Linked DNA regions of Homo sapiens: regions 1 and 2 are each reported to be linked to region 3. Evidence: microRNA targets listed by miRTarBase, many of them from high-throughput screens and not tested one by one. Region 3 holds a microRNA gene; each other region holds the end of a gene's coding sequence.
What was found. Region 3 holds the annotated microRNA hsa-miR-6814-5p (UCCCAAGGGUGAGAUGCUGCCA, at 986-1,007, opposite strand). A microRNA usually pairs through its seed, bases 2 to 8, with sites in the 3' UTR of a target mRNA and lowers its output. Matches are read on the target gene's strand: a 7mer-m8 pairs with bases 2 to 8, a 7mer-A1 pairs with bases 2 to 7 and ends in A, and an 8mer does both.

Region 1 (3,000 bases), not on the chromosome of region 3:
AAGCGATTCTTATTCCTCAGCCTCCTGAGCAGCTGGGATTCAGGCATACGCCACCACGCCCAGCTAATTTTTGTATTTTTAGTAGAGACGGGGTTTCACCATGTTGGCCAGGCTGATCTTGAAACCCGTGCCCTCAAGTGATGCGCCTGCCTCAGCCTTCCAAAGTGCTGGGATTACAGGCGTGAGCCACCATGCCTGGCCTGAGCTGCTCTTGATCTTCCAAAAAAAAAAAAAAAAGCCTTCTTCAGTATTGCTTTAACTTGATGATTGACTAGAGTTTTGTTTTCATAGACTAAAAATTCTACATGAATTGTGGTAACCGGGCTGGCAGTTGGCAGAGTTGCCAGAGTAGCATTGCGGGCGCCTTGGCTGCCAGGCCCTGCTGCGGTTGTCCTCACGTGCCAGGAAGCAGAGTCTGTCGTTGGCGCTCCTCTCATACTTCCTTTCTTTGCTTCCACAGTCGTCACTGCGGACGTCTTCTTTGCCATAAATGCTCGACCAAGGAGATTCCTATTATAAAGTTTGATCTGAACAAGCCTGTGCGGGTTTGCAACATTTGTTTTGATGTACTGACTCTGGGTGGGGTTTCTTAGTGAGCCCCCCGGAGGGTCCAGGCCACGTCCTTGGTCACCTCCCCAGCAGCTGCTCTGCTCACCAGCCTGACCCCACCCAGAGCAGGAGCTGGCGGGTGTCTTCCTGCGGCAATAGACTGGAACGATTAAGGACCATGGTGTGATAGATCCCATTTCAAATGATTCCATATGATTGTCAGTGTGTGTGTCAGACTGTGATCGATTTCACTAGATGTCTCACTCATCAGACCAGGCCATTGGGCCTAAGTGGTAAATGTGATTAGGAATTAGACCTCTCCCCATTCTGCTAGCAACATACAGGGACACTTGGAAAACCATTTCCCCTTCCAGTAGCTTGGTGTCCATCCCAGAGCATTCATGAAGTCTTCCCGCCTGGGCTGACTGATGAGGCAGAGCCTCTCAGCGTAGGAAGCTGGCTGCTTAATGAGCTGGCTTTACTCTAGGGTAAGTGGCTGTGGACTTTTCTGCACAGTGTTTTCATAAAGATAATAGGATCCTCTTGCCCTGAAGTCTTTTTTTCTTTTTACGCTAAGCTGTATTTTTAGTGAGCTACCCCTTTTAAAAAGGTGAAATCTTTCTTAACAGGGTTCAAAGATGAGAGCTGAAAAATCGTGGCCTTAACAACTGAAAGCTTTACAGTGTTCATGCTACTGAGGTGTCAGGAGTGCAGCTGGGCCGCTTGACACCTCGTAGCAGCCGTCTCATTCTCTCGTCTTGCTGCGTCCTGTCTGTGGAGTCCTCAGTCACTCTGCTGTTGGAGAGTGCTGGAGGAAATGCACTTTTACTGTGCTGCACTTTTTATAGAGCTGCATTGTCGGTGATTCCAATTTAAAAATCCATATTCAAAAATACCCTCACACATCCCTGCATCAGTGATTCTAATGATCAGCTTTGACTGGACCTCAGCTCACACGAATCTCCAAGGAAAAACTCTACAGAGCATCTTTTAGAGCAAGAGATTCATACAGGCCAAGTGATGAGAGGGGGAGTCACCAAGGCTTCAGCCCCAAGGGCATCTCCAGCCTCAGGCCGGCAGGTCCTATGTCCTTGACACAAATGCTTCTTGCTGAAATCCTCCCTAGTGATGCTGCGAGTGCTGTTGGTCCCAGTTCTGTGTAGCTTGCCCTGCCCCATGAAGGGCCACCAGCCAAGGGCCCTGGCCACGTGTGCGCCACCTTACTTTGGAAGTCTCTGGCTTGTGTGCTGGATGAGGCTGCCAGAACTTGTTGGGCGTTCATCGCTGTTAGTACATATATTAACCGTGAGGTGTTAAACTTTTCTTTTGAAGGTTTGGCCAGTTTCTAAAAAATGCACATTTAAAGAGAAGCATCTACCACGGCTTTAAAACAAAACAACTCTGAGATGAACAATATGTGTTATACTCAGAGATTAACAATCTCAATCATACATACTGATTCTTTCAGACATTTAATAACCACTACATTTTTTTGCATTAATGAAGTTTGACTATATGTGTAAAGGGACTAAATATTTTTGCAACAGCCTGTTCTTTGTTCATTCTTTTCTGGATAGTGTGTCCTCTGTATTGCGGTAGATTTATACATTCTGTTGCCTAAATATGTGTGTAAAATGAGCTGATAAACTGGAGTACTACTTAAAAAAAAGTCTGTGATTTATAAGATGTATATGCTTTCTATGTGAATATAAGCTTGTGCACAATGTTTAAAAGAAAAACAATGAATTAGAAGAGATCCCCCGTCCCCCAGTCTGACATATTTCATACAGAATGTTTAAAAGAAAAACTCTGCTAGTCTTGGCAAACATTTGGCCATGTGAGGCATGTGGTCAGTTTCCATTTTCTATTACCTGGAAAGGGCCATAAGGAAGCAGGCAGGGCTTAGGTAGCTTGGTTACCTAAGTTAGAAAGTAAGAGAATCATGATTCGGATATGAATTGAAGTGGTTGGTACATGGATACCTGTTCTTTAAAAGGAATGTGGGAGATGAGTCAAGGGTGAGGCCGATTGTTCTGCCCATGCCCTACCATACCAATTTCAATAACAATCTTGCCTGTCATTGCACTCAGAATCTTAAGATCATGTTTCAAATATGTTGATTCAAACTTGCTTCTAAGCCTGAGTCCAGGGATAGCAATGGTACTGACCAGCTATGGACTGGGAGAACATTGAGTCCTGTTTTCCATTGGCTTCAGGGCGCATCCATGTGGATATAGGAAAAGCCTCTTTCCACAGACTTAGGAAGCCCCCCGACCACGCGGACGCTCGCTGGGCTGCACTCAGCAGGCTGCTTGAGTGGGAGCTGACTCCAACATGCCCTGCCCTGGCTGGGACTAGGCATGCTTCCAGCCCTTCCCGTGCTCTCCCTGCTGTCAACACTTGCGTACAAACCTGCCTAGCTGTTGTAAGTTTTCATCAGTAGCTTAAGTA
Region 2 (3,000 bases), not on the chromosome of region 3:
AGCACTTTGGGAGGCCGAGGTGGGGAGGATCGCTTGAGGTCAGGAGTTCGAGACCAGCCTGGCCAACATGGCAAAAACCCTGTCTCTACTAAATATACAAAAATTAGCCGGGCGTGGTGGCACAGGTCTATAATCCCAGCTCCTCCGGAGGCTGAGGTGGGAGAATCGCTTGAACCTGGGAGGCTGCAGTGAGTGGAGACTGTACCACTGCACTGCAGCCTGGGCGACAGAGCCAGACCTTGTCTCAAAAAATAAAAAACCTCTGAGGTTTTTTATCAGGATTAAGTTCATGAATTTCTTCCATCAGTCAACAAATATTTAGCAAGCACCTTGTTCAGGCAACCACCAAGGGTTGTGCAGGCTGTGTACTGCACAAGGGGACTGGCCCAGGACACATTAATTGCAGTCAGGGCTACATGTTCTCCGTGGAAGGCCGTCCTTTTGCAGTTTGCCATGGGCTGGTGGGTGGTGATCCTGCCCTGGCCAAAGCCCTTATCTAGCTCACCCTTGACTGAGATAGCTAAATGTGAGGAGTACTTATTGAGCACTGGATTATAGTCCATGTTCACACTGCTATAAAGAAATACCCGAGACTGGGTGATTTATAAAAGGAAAGAGGTTTAATTGACTTATAGTTCCATATGGCTGGGGAAGCCTCAAGAAACAATCGCTGGGCGCGGTGGCTCACGCCTGTAATCTCAGCACTTTGGGAGGTCGAGGTGGGTGGATCACGAGGTCAGGAGATTGAGACCACCCTGGCCAACATGGTGAAACTCCATCTCTACTAAAAATACAAACAAAATTAGCCGGGCATGGTGGTGGGCGCCTGTAGTCTCAGCTACTCCAGAGGCTGAGGCAGGTGAATGGCGCGAACCTGGGAGGCAGAGCTTGCAGTGAGCTGAGATTGCGCCACTGCACTCCAGCCTGGGCGACAGAGCGAGACTCCATCTCAAAAAAAAAAAAAAAAAAAAGAAAAGAAAAGAAAAAAGGAACTTACAATCATGGTGGTGGAAGGTGAAGGGGAAGCAACGACCTTCTTCACATGGCGGCAGGAGGGAGCCGGGGAAACCGTCACTTGTAAAACCATCAGATCTCGTGAGAACTCACTCACTATCATGAGAACAGCATGGGGGAAAACCGCTCCCATAATCCAATCACTTCCCACCAGGTCTCTCCCTAAACACCCAGGATTACCATTCAAGATGAGATGTGGGTGGGGACACAAAGCTTAACCATATCACGCACCAACTGTGTGCCAGGCACCATTCTAAATGCTTCGGCTTCATCCAATGTCCGTAAAGCTGTTGGCAAAGAGTAACACCAGGAGGCAGAGCCTGGGTGGCACTGCTGATCTGGCACAAGGTGGACTCAAGAGCTGCCCAGAGATGTCCACACACCCCAACCCCAGCCTGTGGCTGGGCCTCCAGAGGAAGCCAGCAGTACTGGACGGCTGCCAGGTGAGATACCTGCAGCTCACTGAGGGGTCTGCCCATGAACCTGTTTCTGTGATGGCCTGGTTCCTGAAATGCCAACCCCTCTGTACCTTAGACAGAAGCCATGCCATTGTACCATCTGCAGGTCCAGGCAGGACCACCTAAAGTCTGCCTTTCCTTCCAGAAACCACAGGGCACAGGTTAGACTGGGCACACCTTTTATTTGGCTGCATGCAGTAGGGCGAAGTCAGGAGAACACTGCTATCTTTCCAGCAGGACAAGAGGCAAGTTCCAAGGGTGGTTGGCTGGGAGACAGAGGTCTTGGGAATGGCAGTTCTAGGGGTGGGGTGGGGGCTTGGAATGCTCTCCAAGCCAGAGGGGGCCGGGCCTGGATTTGGGAGGTGGACAGGGGATTCTTCAAACCCCCTACCATACTCATCCAGGGCTCATGTGTCCAGCTGTCAGAGCAGGTCCCAATCCTGCTCCCCATCTACCCTGGGACATCCTGTACAGGATTCCCTCAGTCCTCTGGGAACCTAACCCCACCTGGTACCCATCTAGCTTCTGGGGCTCCACTGACAGTGAGGACAGTCCACACCCGACCTGGACCCCACCCCACCCTGGGTCTGTCCATCTCAGTCCCGGCCTGAGCCTCTGGGCCAAAGCCACCTCTTCTGAGCAGGCAGGCAGAGCGAGAGACTGGGAGCAGCAGACAGGGGCAGAGCACGGCCCATGAGCCCACCCTCCACTTCCCAGATTGGTCAGAGTTACATGGTCACCTCCCTGCACCTGCACCATCAGGGCAGCTGCAAGCTTGCCAGTTGTCTTGCCTGTCCCTGCTCCGAGGGTCAAAGAACACAGGTAGAATGGTCCCAGGAGGGGAAGGGAGAGACAGATCCAGGCTGGCCTCCAAGCTCGACTTTCTGAGGGGCCCAGGGGAACATGCTGCACCTCCCACATCTCAGGTGCTCCGTCTCTGAAAGGGGCACACGCAGGCTTCCCCGGCCATCATTCAGGTCAAGACCTTTCGGGGAGAGCTGGCCCGACCCCAGCATGCGAGGGCTGCCCACACTGAGAGGCTCCACAAAGAAGAGGCTGCTAGGGGCAAGGGTTAGAGGTCTGGGGACACCTGGCCTCCACCTCCCCTTCCCAAGCCCAGCCCTTTTCTGACAGCAGTTGTTTACCAGTCAGGGTTCAGCAGATGGGGGCTCAGGGGGTGTCAGGGCAGCGGGGGCCCGATGGTGATGCTGCTGTTGGTGACCCTCGGGCCGTACCAGCCGGCCCAGTAATGAGTGTCCACGCCGCCGTGCTGAAACCAGATGTAGCGGACGCCGGGCGGGTAGTTGGAGAATGTGTGGGAGACCTGGCAGGGCAGGTAGAGGGGGGAGAAAGGTCAAGGGAGCTGACTCAGGCTGGGTGTGGCGGCTCACACCGGGAATCCCAGTACTTTGGGAGGCTGAGGTGGGAGGGTTGTTTGAGCCCAGGAGTTTGCAACTAGTCTTGTCGCAAACCAGAGAGTGAGATACCATCTCTACAAGAAAAAAAAAATTAGCCAGGCATGGTGGTG
Region 3 (3,150 bases):
TTTCACACAGGTCCTCGGTTTCAGAAGTAATTTCTTGTGGGGAAGAAAGGGGACATGTCACTCGGATGATGACTTCTGCGTACACACGCGTTCCATATAAACGCAGGGCCCCCACGAGCTGGGGGATTTCTCACACGCCTCGGCCCAGCCTGAGCTCACCAGGCAAGCCCAGGGGCCCTACATGGACAATTTGCTGGCCAAACCCAGGCCCCCCCATCGGTAATCATTTGAAGGCCTCACCAGACTCAAGGCGGAAGCCTTCCCCGGGGGAGCGCCACCTGCCAGTCACAGGGAGCAGAGCTGCCAGCACCTGGCGGATGAGCTCCCCATTCAGCCCGTTTCCTGCCGTAAGCTTTAAATGCAGCAGTTTCCATCTCATCAGGGTGACTTTCCTATGCCAGAGACACATCTGTCCCAGGAAGTCAACTCCTCAAGAGAAGGGCGACGCCGCCGGCCACCGGCCAGGTAAGTCCCCGGGAAGAGCATGGCTGCACCTGAACTTCAGGCTCCCATACAGACTCCTCTGGGTGGCAAGCCCAACCCTGGTGGGGAGCAGGGGGCGGATGGTTGGAGGCAACTCAGTTCCAGCTGCCGTGGCCGAGCCGTGAGTACCAGAGGCCGCAGGCAGGTGCTGGGTCCAACCTATCTGTGCAGGGCTCATTTCGGCCCACCTGTTACACGCCTTGTTTCTCACCCAGGCCTGGTCCCTCACCCTGTCCTGTCTGTCACCTCTGTCTCCTGTGACACCCACAGAATGTGGCGGGGAGACCCCGGGGTGCTCACCTTGGAAGGTGGGCCTAACTCGCGGATCCCCCTGCCAGCACCGCTGCATGAGGCGTATCAGGTGGCTGCAGGCGCGCGGCCGGGCTCTGCACACGGGCGGCAGCTCGGGGCGGTGGCCCTTCACCACCTTCACCATGATGTGCAGGATGTTCTTCTCATCTGCCAAGGGAAGGATGCGAGTCAGGGGCTCTGCAGGGCTGGGTGGCAGCATCTCACCCTTGGGAGGAAACGACACACTCGCCGGGGGCCACAATGGGGCCATCCCCACACCACCCCAGGGAGACGGCTCCCCCACTCCGTTTCAAAGGCAGAGCTTCCTGTAACCCTCACCCTCATGGTGCGCCATGCTCTCTAGTTTCCTGGTTTTGAAATCGACCTCTTTCCCTGGGTTCTGATCTACCAGAAGGAGTCAGTGTGTTTGGTCACAGAGCAGATCTTTCTAGGCATCCCATCCAAAGGAAGATGAGGTTCAAAGGAGAACAATATCTTATGAGGCTCATTCCATCAACAGCCCAAGCCAGCAAAGGGAATGAGGCTCACGCACCATGGAGGAGCCACAGCGTCCTACATCCACAGAGACCCAACTCTCTCTACAATGGCGAAGAAGTCTTCCTCAGTTCCAACTCCAATCCCAAGCTCAGGTCCCCAGCTGGCCTCCCCTGCCGGTGCACCAGGGCTGGGATGTGTGGAAGGGCTCTTTCCCCTCAATTCACCATGTGGGGCCGCACCTGTCCTTTCCAACTGCCTTCACTAGCATGCATGGGCTCTAGCTTATTATTATTATTGCCACAACTTCTACCCTGACTGGGAAGGGCCCAGGGTGACATCCAGTGGGCCAAGTTCTTTTTTCTGCTTAGCCTGGAACCCTCAAGGTTCTTGTTCCCAACAGCCCTCTCTGCCCTCCAGATCCAAACACACCCACGCATGGAATGGCAGCTCTTTGGAGAGGCCATGTGCCTCAGCAGGTGTGGAAAATCAGCCGAGAATCACCCACGGCTGCCAGGATTCCATACAATGTTTTGCTCCACTTTCCCATTAAATCTTGTGCAATAAATATCGTTAAGTGTTTAGCAGGCTATTTCCATGATTATTCAGACTTCAAAACCAACAGCTCCTCTAAATAAAATGGAAGCAAACTGAAGTAAACGCCCGGAATGTTTCCTGCTGCCAAGCACAGACTGGAAAAGCTGGGGAGAGGCCTTGTTCTCCTGCACCTTGAACCCCCTCCTACCCATTTTTGCCTGAGGTTGCAATTTTTTGAATTTGAAAAATCAGACCTTGGCGATGACCTTGAACAGTAGGACACGAATAATTCCCATATGATTAGCGTTCCAATAAGGGAACACTAGGCATATTCAGCAATAAAGCACAAGGGCTTGAGCCTTGACCTGTCCCCTGCGCCTAGCTTCGGGTGTCACATCTATCAGACACTGCCTCATTTCACAAGCCTTCGGGCTGTAGGCCACTGTGCGGGAGAACGTACAGAAGGCAAGAAAGGCGACAGGCGGTCAGACAACACAGACGGACACCGGCCAGCAGAGGCCTGGCAGGACGCGTTCTGTGCTTTCTACTGACATTCTTTTAAAGCTGCCAAGATACTTGATCTTGCGATGCTGGAAGATCTCTTCTCACCCCAGCACTTTCCCATACATCGGCTCCTAGTCTGAGCCCCGACTAACAAGGGGCTAGGCCTTGACTCTCATCTTCATTTTTAGACATTTTCGGTCACACCACAAAATATCATGAGTAGCCCAGAAATGTCTTTAGAGGAAAAGGGAATCTGTCCAACAAAGCTAAAAAGTCCTGGATTTTTATGATAAGTAAGTCAAGGTGTGACAACTTTGAGGATGGTGTTCGGAATGGTGGCTGCCTGGCTGGGGAAGCAAACACCACAGCTCTCAAGCTGGGCAGGGGTGCCACTCCTGCAAGCAACTCCATGGCACTGAGCAGCTCTGGAGGTTGGCTGCGCAAGCACGCGGGTACATGTAATGCTCCTGAACTGTATGCTTCACACGGCTGACATGCTAAGTTTTGTTCTGTGTATTTTATGACTATTTTTTTAAAAAGTAAACAAAAAAGAATTAGCTGGAAATACCAGCACAGGCAAACCCCTGGAGACAGAAAGCAGGTGAGTGGTTGCTGGGGCTTGAGCAGGAGGAAGGGCGAGGGACTGCAGAATGGCCATGGGCTTTGCCTTCTAGCATGATGAGAATGTTCTGGAATTAGACAGTGGTAACGCTTGTTCAACACTGCCAGTGTAGTTAATGTCACTGAATTATACACTTTAAATGGCTAACATGACCAATTTTATGTTATATATATTTTACTACCACAAAAAAACTAGCTGGCACCTAAAAACATTCCATT

Region 1: miRTarBase lists ANKFY1 as a target of hsa-miR-6814-5p. The part of its 3' UTR that is shown has no 7-base or 8-base seed match.
Region 2: miRTarBase lists FBXO44 as a target of hsa-miR-6814-5p. Seed matches in the 3' UTR shown: 7mer-A1 at 2,581-2,587.

What each region holds. Positions count from the first base shown.
Region 1 is chr17:4,165,372-4,168,371 of GRCh38, reverse strand. It overlaps ANKFY1 (ankyrin repeat and FYVE domain containing 1), which reads left to right. Exons shown (of 25, transcript NM_001330063.2): 25 at 461-3,000. The coding sequence ends at 593. Among named protein-coding and RNA genes, the nearest start is that of CYB5D2, 24 kb to the right of the region's middle.
Region 2 is chr1:11,660,926-11,663,925 of GRCh38, reverse strand. It overlaps FBXO44 (F-box protein 44), which reads right to left. Exons shown (of 6, transcript NM_033182.7): 6 at 599-2,796. The coding sequence ends at 2,653. Among named protein-coding and RNA genes, the nearest start is that of FBXO6, 1.8 kb to the left of the region's middle.
Region 3 is chr21:41,745,830-41,748,979 of GRCh38, forward strand. It overlaps MIR6814 (microRNA 6814), which reads right to left and starts at 1,012; the gene lies at 943-1,012. RIPK4 (receptor interacting serine/threonine kinase 4) reads right to left here. Exons shown (of 8, transcript NM_020639.3): 5 at 784-942; 6 at 1-33.